Linked DNA regions of Homo sapiens: region 2 is linked to region 1. Evidence: fine-mapped expression QTL. Tissue or cell type: whole blood. Region 1 holds a variant in brackets; the other region holds the start of a gene. All regions are shown on one strand. Distances are between the middles of the regions.

Evidence for each region. PIP is the estimated chance that this variant, and not a neighbour inherited with it, causes the effect.
Region 2: it holds the start of MIR31HG, and the variant in region 1 is fine-mapped to the expression of MIR31HG in whole blood (TOPMed, PIP above 0.99).

Annotation. Positions count from the first base shown.
Region 1 is chr9:21,485,252-21,493,362 of GRCh38, forward strand. The region is part of intron 1 of MIR31HG (MIR31 host gene); the gene reads right to left. Among named protein-coding and RNA genes, the nearest start is that of IFNE, 7.0 kb to the left of the region's middle. RefSeq lists an enhancer at 2,029-2,618. The variant A/C (reference allele first, on the strand shown) is at 4,809.
Region 2 is chr9:21,554,918-21,563,028 of GRCh38, forward strand. MIR31HG (MIR31 host gene) reads right to left here and starts at 4,881. Exons shown (of 3, transcript NR_152879.1): 1 at 4,572-4,881. RefSeq lists an enhancer at 3,656-4,442.

The sequences.
Region 1 (8,111 bases):
TTATCACTTCAGATATTATACTTTCATTTGTAGAAGTTGAATTTGTTTCTTTTTCATATCTACATTTCTTTCCTCATCACATTCATCTTTTCCTCTACATTCTTGAGCATATGGAGTACATTTATAGTAGGTGTTTAATCTCCTTTTCTGATAATTCTATCATTTGTGTCATTTCTGAGTCTGGTCTTGTCAATTATATTTCTACTCTTTATGGGTCCTATTTTCCTATGTCTTTTGCATGTTTGGTAACTTTTGAGTGGATTCTGAGCATTGTAAATTTTACTTTAATGGGAGTTGGATTTGTTAAGTCCTTTACGTACAGTTGAACTTTGTTTTAGGGTATAGTTGAGTTACTTGGAATTGGATTCCTCTGACATTGGCTTTGTTAGCATGAGTGAAGCAGACTTTATAATTTAGGGCAATGCCTTTGTAACCAAGAATATAGTCTTTTGAGGACTCTACTTAATGCTCTCTGAATTTGGAGATTTTTGCCCTCTGGCTGCTGGAAACATGAAATATCCCCAGCCCTGTGTTAGCACTGGGGACAGCCTGTACTGCCTGCTCCTTTCTGGGTGTTCTTTTCCTAATCGGGTAACTCCTTTACGCACATACACAAACCACACATTAGCTAAAGACTCCTGAAGACATTTTTACAGATCTTCGTAGCTCTCATTCATTCTTCCCCAATTTCCCTCTGTGCAGCAATATCTTCTCCAATATTTTTCTGCCTCCCTGAACTCCAAACTATGACATATCAACTCATTGAGAACACTGGTCTGTTGGAGTTTCCTCCTCTTTGTGCTGCAGCCTGCCAATTTTCTATCCAGCATTAAGCTGGAGCAATTGTAGGGCTTACTGTATTTCTTTCCTTTCTCTCAAGGATCATTATCTTACGCTGTCTGTTATCCAATGTCTAAAAACTATTTTTCGTATATTTTACTCAGTATTCTAGTTGTTCAAAGTGAGATGATAAATCTAGTTGTCCCTCATGACTAGAAGTGGAGGTTCTCTCATTATAAATAATCTAAAGTGGGAGTTGGCAAACTATAGCCTATGGACCAAATCTGTCCTACCACCTCCTGCTTCTTCTTTTTTTTTTTTTTTTTTTTTTTTTTTGAGATGGAGTTTTGCTTTGTCGCCCAGGCTGGCGTGCAGTGGCTTGATCTCGGCTAACCGCAAGCTCCGCCTCCCAGGTTCACGCCATTCTCCTGCCTCAGCCTCCCAAGTAGCTGGGACTACAGGCGCCCACCACCACACCCAGCTAATTTTTTTATATTTTTAGTAGAGATGGGGTTTCACTGTTTTAGCCAGGATGGTCTCGATCTCCTGACCTCGTGATCTGCCCGCCTTGGCCTCCCAAAGTGCTGGAATTACAGGCGTGAGCCACTGCATCTGGCCTACCACCTACTTTTGTAAATAAAGTTTTACTAGAACACAATGATGCTCATTTGTTATGGCACTTTCATGCTACAATAGCAAGGCTGAATAGTTGTGATAGGAACTATATGGTCTACAAAACCTGAAATATTTACTCTCTGGTCTTTTACAGAAAGGTTTGCTGAACCCTGATCTAAAAGATTAAAAACAAAATATAATTGTATTCAAAGTCTAGAAATTTTGAAAATGTTTTCACAAAAAATGTAATCTAAAGTAAATGTTAAAAATATTACATATTTTATATTTTCAAAAAACATGAAATATTTTATACAATGTTATCTATCAAAATTAAAAGACAACATGTGTGGTATAATTAATATCAAATTTAAACTGACAGTATTTAAATAAAGCATATACTTAACCTTTTAATTAAAAACGTATTAAGCATTAAAAATGTTTATAAAAGTAAAATTACATGCAATTCTATCTTACAAGGTTCATATGGATAACAATGTAAAAAAAAATGTATCACACTTCCAGCATATGTCTAGACCAACATAAATTAAGATTTAAGAGTAAAATAAATTGATTAATATTGAGAAATATTTTCCAGCCTCCATGTACAACTATTGCCAATGCCCATCATAATTTATGAGTCCCTCCTGAATCACTAATTGTTTTTTTTTTTTTTTTTTTTTTTTGAGCAACATGGCTCTTTATTTCACCTGGGTGCAGGCGGGCTGAGTCCGAAAAGAGTCAGGGAAGGGAGATAAGGGTGGGGCCGTTTTATAGGATTTGGGTAGGTAAAGGAAAATTACACTCAAAGGGGGTTTGTTCTCTGGTGGGCAGGAGTGGGGGTTCGCAAGGTGCTCAGTGGGGGTGCTTTTCGAGCCAGGATGAGCCAGGAAAAGGACTTTCACAAGGTAATGTCATCACTTAAGGCAAGGACTGGCCATTTACACTTCTTTTGTGGTGGAATGTCATCAGTTAAGGTGGGGCAGGGCATGTTCACTTCTTTTGTGATTCTTCAGTTACTTCAGGCCATCTGGGCGTATACGTGCAAGTCACAGGGGATGCAATGGCTTGGCTTGGGCTCAGAGGCCTGACATTCCTGCCTTCTTATATTAATAAGAAAAATAAAACAAAATAGTGAAGTGTTGGGGCGGCAAAAATTTCTGGCGGGTGATATGGACAGAGAATGGGCGATGTTTCTCAGGGCTGCTTCAAGCGGGATTGGGGCGGCGTGGGAACCTAGAGTGGGAGAGATTAAGCTGAAGGGAGGTCTTGTGGTAAGGGGTGATATTGTGGGGATGTTAGAAGAAACATCTGTCATATAGAATGATTGGTTGGCCTGGATACGGTCTTGGATGAAGTGACAAACTAAATGGAATAAGAGAAGGAGAAAAACAGGTATAAAAGGACTAAGAATTGGGAGGACCTAGGACATCTAATTAGAGAGTGCCTAAGGAGATTCAGCATAGTCCTGCCAGCAAAGATTATTTATTTACTTCAAGAGTTTAGAGTGGCAGTTTGGGGATAGCACCAGGAGATATCAGCTGCGATGGCTTGGAGAAACAGTGTAAACCAGCAGTGTAAACAAGAGCAGGGCATGTATGAGTAGTTGAGAACGGTGAATAGGAGTATGACTAACAGATGAGGATGAAATTTGGGCTTGACTGAAGTAATGGGGGCTGTCTGTGAAGCCTTGCGGCAGTATAGCCCAGGTAATTTGCTGAGCCTAATGGGTGTCAGGGTCAGTCTAAGTGAAGGCAAGTGTTAACAGGCTTTAATCCTTTCAAAGCATGCTGTGGGATGGGATATTGGCATTGAGCCAGGTAAGGGTGATTAGGTTTTAATGAGATGGTAAGGGGTGCATGATCGGTCGCCAAGGAGGGAGTAGAGGTATCTTATACTTGTGGGTTAAGATGGGGGAATACAAGAGGAGGACGCAAAAGAGGCTTTGGATTGGGAAGAAGGGCATCAATGAGATGCGGCTATGGTCCAGGAATAGTCAGGGAAGCAGATAATTTGGTTAAAATGTCTCAGCCTAATAAGGGAACTGGGCAGGTGGGGATAACTAAAAAGGAGTGCTTAAAAGAGTATTGTCTAAGTTGGCACCAGAGTTGGGGAGTTTTAAGAGGTTTAGAAGCCTGGCCGTCAATACCCACAACAGTTATGGGGGCAAGGGAAACAGGCCCTTGAAAAGAAGGTAATATGGAGTGGGTAGCCTCCGTATTGATTAAGAAGGGGACAGACTTACCTTCCACTGTGAGAGTTACCCGAAGCTTGGCGTCCGTGATGGTCTAGGGGGCTTCCGAGGCGATCGGGCAGCGTCAGTCTTCAGCCGCTAAGCCAAGAAGATCTGGGAAGCAGTCAGAGAGCCTTGGGCCAGAGTTCCAGGGACTCTGGGAGTGGCTGCCAGGTGAGTTGGACAGTCCGATTGCCAGTGGGGTCCCGCACAGATGGGACACGGCTTAGGAGGAATCTTGGGCTGCAGGCATTCCTTGGCCTGGTGGCCACATTTCTGGCACTTGCAGCAAACTCCTGGGGGAGGAGGTTCTGGAGGAATGCCTGGCCGCTGCGGTTCAGGCGTTTGGAAGTTCTTGTGTGCTGGAGATGTGGCTGGGGTTTGTCTCACAGTGGAGGCAAGGAGTTGAAACTTTTTTCTATTATTGTACACCTTGAAGGCAAGGTTAATTAAATCCTGTTGTGGGATTTGAGGGCCGGAATTTAATTTTTGGAGTTTTATTTAATGTTGGGAGCAGATTGGGTAATAAAATGTATATTGAGAATAAGATGGCCTTTTGACCTTTTAGGGTCTAGGGCTGTAAAGCATCTCAGGGTTGCTGCCGAACGAGCCATGAACTGGGCTGGGTTTTTATATTTGATGAAAAAGAGCCTAAACGCTATCTGATTTGGGATAAAGAAAAAGGAGCATTAACCTTGATTATGCCTTTGGCTCCAGCCACCTTTTTAAGAGTAAATTGCTGGGCAGGTGGGGGAGGGCTAGTCACGGAACGAAACTGTAAGCCCGACCAGGTGTGAGGAGGGGAGGCGATAAAAAGATTATAGGGTGGAGGAACGGAGGCTGAGGAAGAATTGGGACCTAGCTCGGCCTGGCGAGGAGGGGAGAGGTCAGATGGGTCTGTAGAAAAGGAAGATTAGAAAGACTCAGCGACGCTTGGGGTTGGGACTGAGGGGACAGGCGGGAGGGAAAGAAGGAAGATTTGGGACGAGTTGCACTGGGCGCAGAGACTAGGAAGGGACTGATGTGTAAAAGAATGCCTGGATGTCAGGCACCTCAGACCGTTTGCCTATTTTACGACAAGAATTATTTAGATATTGCAGGATGGAAAAATTCAAAGTGCCATTTTCTGGCTATTTGGAACTACTGTCGAGTTTGTATTGGGGTCAAGCGGCATTGCAGAAGA[A/C]AATAAGGCATTTAGGTTTTAGGTCAGGTGAGGATTGAAGAGGTTTTAAGTTCTTAAGAATACAGGCTAAGGGAGAAGAAGGAGGAATGGAAGGTGGAAGCTTGCCCATAGTGAAGGAGGCAAGCCCAGAGAAAAGAGTAGAGACACGGAGAAGGGGTGGGGGTTTCTTGCCCTCCAGAAAAGCAGAGAAAGGGTTGGGGCACAGAAATAAGGGATTGGGGCGCAGAGATAAGAGGTTGGGGCATGGAAATAAGCGATTGGGGTGCAGAGATAAGAGGTTGGGGCGCAGAGATAAGAGGTTGGGGCATGGAAATAAGCGGTTGGGGGTTCTTGCCCCCTAGGAAAGCGGGACTCGCCGCTAAGGGTGAAGGAGAAGGGGTTGAGGGGTACTTGCCCCTGCCCCAGGAAAGCAGAGAAGGGGTAGAGACAAGGAGAGAAGAGGTTGAGGGCTATTTGCCCCTCTCCCAGAAAAGCAGAGAAGGGGTAGAGACAAGGAGAGAAGGGGTTGAGGTACTTGCCCCTTCCCCAGAAAAGCGGGACTTGCCGCTAAGGGTGAAGGACCAAGGCAGGCGTCCCTGCGTGGTCTGACACCCTTGAAACATGGCTGAATGATCAGAGAGGCGTCCCTGCAATGATTAAACACCAAGGGAAGGCTGCCTTCCCAATCCGTGACCGGCGCCGGAGTTTTGGGTCTATGAATAAAACGTGTCTCCTTTGTCTCTCCCAGAAAATGAAAGGAATTGAAATTAAGAGAAGGGAGAGATTGAAGAGTGGAAAGGAGAAAGTGGTTGAGGGACAGTGAGAGAGGTTGGAGAAGAGAGTAAGATGAGGCCGCTTACCGGATTTGAAATTGGTGAGATGTTCCTTGGGCTGGTTGGTCTGAGGACCTGAGGTCGTAGGTGGATCTTTCTCACAGAGCAAAGAGCAGGAGGATGGGGGATTGATCTCCCAAGGGAGGTCCCCTGTTCCGAGTCAAGGCACCAAATTTCATGCGCGTCCGTGTGAAGAGACCACCAAACAGCTGAATCACTAATTGTTACGTAAAGACAAGCAAGAGAATGGACACTGGGGACTATTGAGACATGGTATTTCATTTTGTAAGAATCTATTGCGTTCCTGCTGTCCTTGAGGAAGGGTTTACTAGGCAATTAATGTGTCTTCTCTTTCCTCTGCAGCTCAAATCCCCTACATTCCAAGGCAACGTCTCCTTCATGGCATCAGGTACAGTCAATTTTTTGTAGGGGACTGAAAGCAAGAGATGTGGAGAAATATCTCCCTGGGTACCAAATGGAATTACTAATGAGCATGTATATTTAGAGTTATTGGGCCATATGTGAGCACTGAGTACCAGATCCTAAGTGATGTGGGTACTAGATGCTTTTTTAAAATGTTGTGTGTGTCTATGCATGTGTGTGTATGTGCACTTCCGTGTGTGCATACACATGTGTTGTATAAATTGAATCATGTCTGATATTCAGGTTTCTCAAAAGGGCAAGACCTAGAGTAGAGCATAGGTCACTCTTGTCTGAATCTAAGGATGGTATTAAGGAAATTCACTGCATGCTTACATTGCTTAGAGAAAGACAATGGAAAGTGTCATGATGATGAAAAAAGGGCTAAATCTTAAGTATCAGTCAGTATGACGAAGTCTCTAAAATAAATTAAACAAACGACTGGTAGTTCATCTTTAGCTAGAATGGGCTTTTCAATGACTTTTAAATTTATTACATAAGTATCAAGTTTTATTTATTCACTTGTCTCCATAAATTATTTATCATTACTGTCAATCTAAAAAATGTAATTAAAATTGTGATACCCTCTGTTTAAAACACACAAAAACAGTTCCAGTTAGTAAACGAGGCATTTTAAATTCAACCAAAGGATGGCAGCATAATATCAATTACTTAGAGCCTGGGATAAACTTTGCTGTTGGTAAGATATCACAAATTAATGGTATCTAGTGGTCTGATAATGTATGATCAGCAATACATTACTCAGACCAGGTGTATTGTTCCCATAACACATTAGCTCACTAGTCTGTCTAATCCATATTAAGATACTTGCTGGTTAGTATTGTTATATTTTCCTTTTTTGCCTTGACCACTCTAATGGACATGCCTTGCTTTCTGGCCATCTACTACCTCCTCTCCCTTTCTGGGGGTCGGGGGGTGGGGGCGTCTGTAAACATATTCTAACTTCTCTGACCACTCTGGGATCTTGTGCTCTGGCCAGACTCTCCAGCGTGCCACACACAGGGTGCCACATCTAGCCCTATCCCAAGCTACTCAGCGCCTCCCTTTGCTCTGGCCTCAGTTATTATTTCAGATATGGTTATTTTTCCCAATGGTATCGACACAGCTCTACTCCATTTTCTGAGCATAAACTTTCAAATATTTGACCATATTAATTTATCTATCATAGAATTCTGGAGCTGGAATTGATCTTAAATTGATATCTAATCTCTGCTTCCCTTTCCCTTTTTGAAAAATTCAGTCCTAAAGACAATAGATGGACAAAACAATGTAAGCATTTTGCTGGAAAGGGCAGGAAGCCACACTGCTGGAGCTCAGACAGGCAAAGGTGACTGTTTATGTGGAGAGAGAACCTGGCATGGGTGTCACAGCCTAAGAGTGATTAGAGCATCCGTGGAGCGGGGCTGCTGTGGGGAGTCATAACTTGAGTGGAGTGAGGAGAAATATTCTGTAAAACAATTGCCCTGTAATCGTTCAAGGTCATGAAAATCAACAAAGACCCAGCAACTGCTCCAGACTATAAGAGACTAAAGAATATAGCAACTGAATGCATAGCATGATTCTGAACAGGATCCATTTGCTACTAGGAATATTATAGGGTCCAAGCACCGTGGCTCACACCTGTAATCCCAGCACTTTTGGAGGCTGAGGCGGGTGTATCACCTGAGGTCAGGAGTTTGAAACCAGCCTGGCCAACATGGTGTAACCCCATCTCTACCAAAAATACAAAAATTAGCTGGGTGTGGTGACGGGTGCCTGTAATCCCAGCTACTTGGGAGGCTGAGGCAGGAGAATAGCTTGAACCTGAGAGGTGGAGAGTGCCGTAAACTGAGATTATGCCACTGCACTCCAGCCTGGGTGACAGAACAAGACTCCATTTCAAAAAAAAAAAAGAATATTATTGGATTATTGGGACTACAAATCTAAATACGAACACTGAGTATCATATGGTGCTAACGTAACAATGTTAATTTCTGAATTTTGTTGTGGTTATGCAGGGAAAATATCTCTGTTGGTAGGAAACACACATTAAAGTATTTGACAGTATTGG
Region 2 (8,111 bases), 70 kb after region 1:
AAAGCTGGGGTTTGTGTATTTGTTTTCAAATTTTATCTACTTCCATTCTCACCTATAAAAAGGAAATGAGTTTTGAGTCACGGCACAGAATATGAAAAGAAAATGTCAAGTGACAATATTACCAGTTTTTACTTCAAAAACCACTCTAGTTAAAAGCTACTTAAATCCTAATTTTTAAGGCTTCATTTACTTTATGTGGATTTTACTTCAGAGAACTCACACTTTTAGTGCTTTAGTCCACTGCTTCTTATATGAAATTTTTTATTTAGTTAATGAAGTTGAGATAATCAGTAAAAGGTTTGATCAGTGAGGCAAAACTCCCCAGGATAATCATTCAATAATGACTTTATGACTGGAATTTCTACTTCAACATGTGCTATAACTCAAAAATCTCAAGTTATTTTAGATAGTAAGATCGTACCAGTTTGACTTTTGGGGAAATCAATCCTTTGCTTGTATTCAAACCTTGGACTCTAAAATAGTCTCACCTCACATACTAGAAGCTTCTAGAGCAGGACTTTCTGAGATGATTTCTTTATCTTATTTTATACATATCCAATTTACTAACGTGGCCCAAGTCCACCTGAAATTTGGCAGAAATAAGACGTCAGTTGTCGGATTACACTGGTTTTTAGATGCAGTTCATTTTCCTTTCCTGCTACCCTCCTCAGAATCAAAATTACCTCTAAGCAAAGAACCTAGATTTAAAATACAAAGAAGAAAATCCAACACAGAATTACCTAAGGAGAAGTGAAAGAACTTTTCTGTAACCAATGCTATGCCTTCTTGGTCACTTTAATATTTGCCATTTTATTGTACTTTTCCCCTCTTCCAAATTGTAGAAGCACTCTATAGAAGTAAAACAAAAAAGAGAACTATAACGCAAACTCTTAATAATTCAAAATAAGTGAAAAACTTAGATTCTTGAGCCACACTCCCCTATATGCTACCTACCCTGGCGGACTTACAATCAAATCATACTTTATTTCTTTCTAATTAGGTTGAAAGTAGTATGAACAAGGCTACTGCCTATACACAAATGGCACTAATTTTCCCATTTGGGTCTAAGTCTTTTAACTTCAACTGTTATGCCCCTGGCAAGGAAGTAAAGCTGAATTGGACAAGACCAAAACATTTCGTGGGTTTGATTTGCTGCGGATCATGAAGTTGGCTTTGCAAATGGCAGAGAAGGGGACTCCTTCACTACTGCTAACTCACAGGAATCAATGTGAAAGAGCTGTGGGGAATTAAGACTCAGAACTTCTTAACTGGCTCAGATTCATATGGACTCAGGCTTATCAGGCAGAACTATGATCAACCCACGTAGCAGGTTTTATTAATTTTCCCTATACAATCTTTCACCGCTCAGTAGTCGATCCTTTGTCAGAGGCAGCACAATCACAGAAATGGAAACTGGGCCACAAACTGCTTAGCATAAATGTTTCCAAGGCCAATAAAAATGGCATTTTTCCCCTGCCATTTGCCCAAAAGTATAATTTTTATTAATATAATTATTATTTTACTTAAAGAATCAGTGCTATTTGGACATTGCTCTTAAATGGAAATTACTTAATAACACATTTAATTTAGAAATTGGCTTCTAAATTAATGCTGACAGCTTGGAAGCTGGTATTTAGACAAAATAGAGTAAGCTGTGTATTCGATAAAGCCATGATTAAGGATTTTCAAATGAGATTTATTTTTTCTGTTGTCTGCTGTATTTTAGTACAACCAATAACTACATCCTGACAAAAAAATTCAATTACATAATAAAGCAGAAACTTCTAGGAAGTCCGAAAGTAAGTTTTGTTCTCAGACTCTTTTTACTCCCCTCCATACTGCAAACCAGCACACATATATACAATCGATTTTTCCCCTTCATCTAGACTCTTACCAAAATTATTTTAATAATTTCCTGGACTGCCTTCTCACATAAGATGTGGATAAAAAAGCCTCAATATCCATAAATACAGCAAGCACTTATATTGTACAAATAAAATAACTGACTTACTTTCTAAACACTTAATTGTATTTAAAAAGATGACATAGTTAAGAAGTCCTCAGTGAAACTACAGTTTATAACACAAAGATCAAATTTCGCTGTTTCTTAGTTAAGATTGACCTACCCTAGATCCAACAAAAGTTGCTGTTTTTTTTCCTCACTTCCATAAAAATTTCTGAATCACTTGGGAGATTATTTCTAAGGAAATAGTTGTGAAACCAAGAAGCTGTTCAAACTTAAGCATCAATTCTTTTGTTAATTCATTTTATGATTAAAAGAACTACCAAAAACATTACTCTCTAAGAATCCTATCATTATATGTATTTTAAAGTGTCTTCAAAAAGCCATTTTATCTTAAAGCTGGATTTCATTCCTCAAATGTTAATAATCTGGGATTGCATCTCTTGCTTTTTTACAGTTAAAATTTGTTTAGAGCCCCCCCGATGTTTATATGCCAAAGCTACCTAGATACACACAATGAAGAAAAACTGTGGCAATTATATGAAAAATATAATGACATCTGTCATTAAATGTCAATGTTTCAAGTAAAACATTTCTTATAAAAACCTGTTACTGAAGAAAAGAACTGTTAAAGTACATGAATTAAAGTATTTTTAATTATCCCAAATACGTACCAACCAAATTTAACTACAGCTTAGTTTTTTAGGCAAACCAAGATGACTATTTTTTTTAATCTGAGAAAAACATGGTATGTAGAAAAATTCTATTTTATTCAGTTCAACACTCTTCACTTGAGGATATGAAATTTATAAGTATGCAATCTCCTTGAAATTGTAAAAATATAATACACAATTTTATACTACCTTCTAATTTTACTTCCTCAAGCATTTGTTGTAGTTTCTAGAATAGCTATCTAGCCATTACACTGTACATAAAAGTGATCCTCCAATTTATTTCCACTTCTAAAAAGATGCTTAAATATAGAATAAAGCATTTCATACCTCCCTTCTCGTTTAAAATTCCAAAAAGGGCCAACAATCCACATTATAGGTTAAACACTTTGTCTCTGTTATACACTTTTCAGAATTTATAAGACTGAAAAATTATAAAATTTCATCCAATGAATAATTCTGTACTTTATTAAAGTCTGGTTTCTCTAAACATTTACCTATCATCTAAGCAATATTAACATGTACAACAAAGTAGTAATATGGTATAAATAGAAAATAAACACTCCAAGCTGATAATTCCATAAGGTCTAATGATTCTATTAAAACAAACACAAATCAAAATTTTCCATTTTAGGGCCCCAAATTCAACTTGAAACATTTTTTATATGATAAGATTAAAGCAGCTGCCCAATTTTCAGGAAGCTCTGTCTCAAGTTAAGGAAAAAAAGAGAAAGGAGGAACTATAGTTCTTTGGGTGACTTAAATCACTGCCTTTTTTACTTTTTTTGCCTTAAAATCAAGATAAAGTTCTCACCTAAAGATTAACCTCTGAAGACAATGAAAAATAACCAGGATTGGACTTTAAAAAACAACTTAAAAGTCAGCCCCCTCATACAAAACTCGACAACAAATAAACCTAGACTTAACTGTCATTTTCAAATCCAATTTTTACCTGAATTGGTAAAAATTTATTTAAAACAAAATGCAAAATACAATATTGTTTCAATTTTGGCCCAGGAGATAAACACTTTAATGCAGAGTTAATAAACTCCAGCGAATAAATAGGATCATTTTCCTAATTTCACTTCAAAGCTGCCAGGATTTCAATAAGGAAGTTCAAAGGCCCGATTCCAGAAACTAGAGGTCCCCGGAAAGTGAGGGGCGTCTGGCCACAGCCTCAGTTCCAAACCAGGTATAGTTCTTGAGCTGTCATTCTTAGTCCTATTACCACTAATACAAGGTCAAAAAAACGGTCCTGTAAGGTGTCAATTAAGGGGTCACTTTTGCCTAAGGTTTCCTTAACTTCTCTCCTAGTGAAGCCGCTCTAAGTGAACATTTCCGCTGTGTTTTTTTTAATGACTGCCATTGTCTCGCTGGAGAATCGGAGGCTCTTTTAGAAGTACTGTTGGAAAATTCAGGATTTTACAAAACATTTTCTCAGCTGTACAGGGCAAAAACAAACTTTAATCCTACTAGCCATGGGTGTAAACCACAAGCCTAATTTCTCTTCTAAGAAGGGAAAGCTTAGTTAAGTTTTAAAGTGACAGTAATTTTAGGTGGTAAAATGAGCTCAACTCAAACATCGCTGTATGAAAGCGCTCTCCGCCAACACGCTCATGGACACACACAACTCCTTCCTCGAGGTTTAGGGACAGAGAGCGAACCTGTGACTTCGGGCCAGGATGACGACCTGAGATTTGGACAAGAGGAGGCGGCGGTTCCGCGAAGAGCCAAGGGCGGCCGGCGCTCCGGGATGCGCCGGACCCCGCGGCGCATCCTCGTTTGGGCGCCAACGGGCGCCGGCGGTCCTCGGACCCGGGTGTCGACTGCCGTGTGCCCACTGCCGTGTGCCCAGGCCCCGAAGCCTCCTCAACTCCTTGAGGGGCGCCTCCCTAGCCAGCTCAGCGCGCAGCGGGACCAAGGCTCTCCCAGCTTACCTGCGGGTCCGAGTAGGAGGACAGAAGCGCCGCCCGGCCTCGCCCAAGCGCACACGAAGGGGCCGCTTCCCGCCCCCCGCACCCCAGACCAGGCGGCTCACGGAACACCGCCTCCCAGCTCTGGCCCGGGACCAGGCGGTCCCCCAGCCGGCTTCGGCGCCGCGGCCGGGGACGCGCGTCTTCCTTCTCCAGGCGCCGGACGTGGAACCTGCGAGCCCCTGGCGGCGCCCCAAGTTATGCACAGGTCGCAGCTGCTCACCAAGCTCCTCCTGGGAGGCCGCCCTGGTCCCCGAGAGGGGCGCGCGGGAGTGGACGTTCCCGCACCTTCGCCCCATCCACACCTGCCGCCGCCGCCGGGGCCGCCAGCGCCGTGGCTCCGCCCCGGCTCCGCCCCTCGCCGCCCCCGGCTCCCGCTCCAGCCGCCGCCGCGACCGCCGCGGAAAGGAGGGGGAGGGAAGAGGCGCCTGGACGGGGCTGCGGGAGCGGCCGTGCTGAGCCTCCTCCCTTGGGCCCGGACGGGACCCAGGTTTCTCCACTGCAACGCAGCTCCCGAGTGACGGAATTTTGTGGGGGAAGCGGCGGCCACTACGCTCGCTTTTGGCACAGTAGCCCTTTGCGGGTGGGAGCTTCTCGCAGTCAGAGCTAAGGGAGAGGGAGTCCACCTGCAAGAGCCAGAGCTCGCCCTTGTACTCTCCGAATGCAAACTTAGCAAATTGAACAGCGGAAGTACTTCCTTGGTCGGACCCCTGCTCTTCTAGGGGTCTTCTAGAAACGTGGCGGCTATCACAGGCCCCGTGGTATAACTGGCATTTGGAAAACGAGGGTGTTTTTCCATCTGGAGTGGCCTCTCTCCTATCCTCAACCCTCCGTGTCCTTCGACGCCTCTCTCAGATGCCATCTCCACCAAGAATTTTTTCCGGGTACCCACCTGCGCCCAGATTTGATTCCGCCCTCTTTGGGACAGCCTGGGTGCTCTGAACCTTTCCACTGCCCCTTCAGGTGTATGAGAGCGCCTTGTGAAATGCATGGGCCATCGTTAGTTATTTTTATTGCAATATGTGGTTTCATATTCAGTACTGTAGTATACAAGCAGAGATATTTATGCTTTCACAACACTTTTCATTTGGGTTTGAATTCCTTAAACATGAAGACTATAGTAAGTTGCCCATCTCTGGAAGTAAATACTGAGGGGTACATGGCAGGGTAATCCGACCCGATGACCTAGCCAGAAGTTCTGGCTGTCCTACTCAACTATGCCCTCCGCAAGCCCAGCATGGTAGCCTTTCACCTGGATTTGAAGGGGAAAATTGTATTTCTCTCTGAATGTAATTACATTTTGGCAAAGGTCAGTCTAGTTACCACCAAAAAATATTCTACGAGTTGAAGGGTGGGGGTGGGAGCGTCAGAGCAAGGTTAATAGTGGTATTTTATTGATTTTGAAGTAAATATAACTCTACGTAGTCATTTGTTCAACCAAAACGAAAAATATTCATCAAATATTCCCTAATAAGTTGGTACTCATTTCCTTAGCCACTTTAAAAAACACAAGTCAAATATAATTGATTATATAAATTGTATTTGCATGAAGATTTGAGTCCAAGGACTATAAGAAAGATTCAAATTTTAAATTTTCTGCATACGATATGGTTAAATAAAATGTTTGTATACTATTTCCTATACCTAAGTGTATGTTTTGAGTTGAGATGTCAGTAGTGTTTAATGGTTAATAGTGTTAAGTAAACGACAGCTAGGAATCACTACAGTTAGCTTAGAACAGGTTGAATTTATGAACTCCCATTTTAAAGAACTGAGAAATCTCAAACCATATGACTGCCTTGACCAAGAAATAAAAAAAATTAAACAGATTCTTAATATTAAAATTTCTGAAAATTTTGAAAAATGAATTTTTAAAATTAACAGTCCTAGTATTTTTAAAAAGCAAATATTTTAGAAATCATGAAAAATGTACCTTAAGATGTAAAAGAGGATAAACCTCAGAGCTAAGGTCTTTTTAAAAATGTAGTTAGTGAAACCTATTCATGGAAAACTCAAAAGCATTCTTTGAAGTGAAAAAAGTACTCTAAATTTATTATGGAAAGTATAGTATCATTGAACTCAAATAGCTATTTTAAACATCGTAATTCTGTGAGTAACAAGAAAAAAAAGCTTTCCTTATATGTGAATCCCACTAGGCAAGACTTTGTCCAAAGTCCAACAGAAAAAAATATTGAATAAACAAGCATAAGCATCTCATTCGTGGAACATATTTTTAAGCTTTTATACAGAAGCCCAAAATAATATTATAGAAAAGATTACACAATTGCATAGCCAAAATTATATATCATAATATTATGAATAGCAAAGAAGCAAAGAAGGAATAATTCACCTCAAATAGCAAATAAACAAAAAGTGTCTTAAGCCCATAGTATCTTTTAGACTTCAACTGAGGCAAGCAAGCTGTTTGGCCCAAGACAAATATACATAATATCACAGTAAACCCAGAGCTAATAGAATACAGCCATAAGAGGCCCACATTGCAAACACACAGGCATCTGTAGCTAAAACTATCAAAGGGGCTTGCCCAGGGTACTTCACATACAACTTTTTGTTCCATCTTACTTCATTATAATGACAGCATCATCTTGAATGTGAGAATTTCCTCCTCAACCTTTACCTGCAAGTAAAAGATGAACCACTACTCATTTTCTAGTTGTACCCTAAAATGAATAAATAAGTCAAAGTTTCTACTGGCATTTAAATTATTTCTAAATATATTACTTACAAAGCTTAATGTATTATTTTAGTGATTAATAATTTCTGTACCATAAAACTTGTTCTGTATTAGTTATCACGTCTTTATACATCCACTGGTAATCAAGGACTTTCAGAAGAGAGTAGAATACAATCTTTATTTTATTTAAAGTTTAAATATATGTATTTAAGATACATATGTGTATGTGTGTGTATACATATGTATGTGTGTGTGTGTATATATATATATATAAATATAAATATAAAATGCACCCACACACATGAAGTACAGGACAAATGGGAACAGAAATGCCAAAACAATCTTTTTCCAAAATAAATATTTATAATAATTATAAAATAAATTATTAACAGAAAGTATACAAAGTGTGCTTTCCATTTCATTTTTAGTTTACTTATTTAGAAATGTTTTTGCATGTAAGCAAACCCAAATTCTGGTGATTATTATTAGTATTGTTTTTGAACAATGAGGTGGTGCAAGAAGCATTGGAAAGAATTTCTTAGCGGTCTCTCTGGCATTTTTTGAAGTTCTAATAAGCTTTTATGTGGAAGTTAGCAGATAATTTCAGTTTAAGTGATTTGACTGATGACATCGACAAATATTTTAATGTCTTCTTTATAGTAGACATGTTATAGAAAAACTTTATATATAAAAAGTTTATATACAGAAAACTTGCTAAAAAGTATTTTATAGTTCTTTACGTAGAAAAACTTGCTAAAAAGACAACACTATAAATATCTATGCAAATGTTATTATCTGTTCAAACTAGA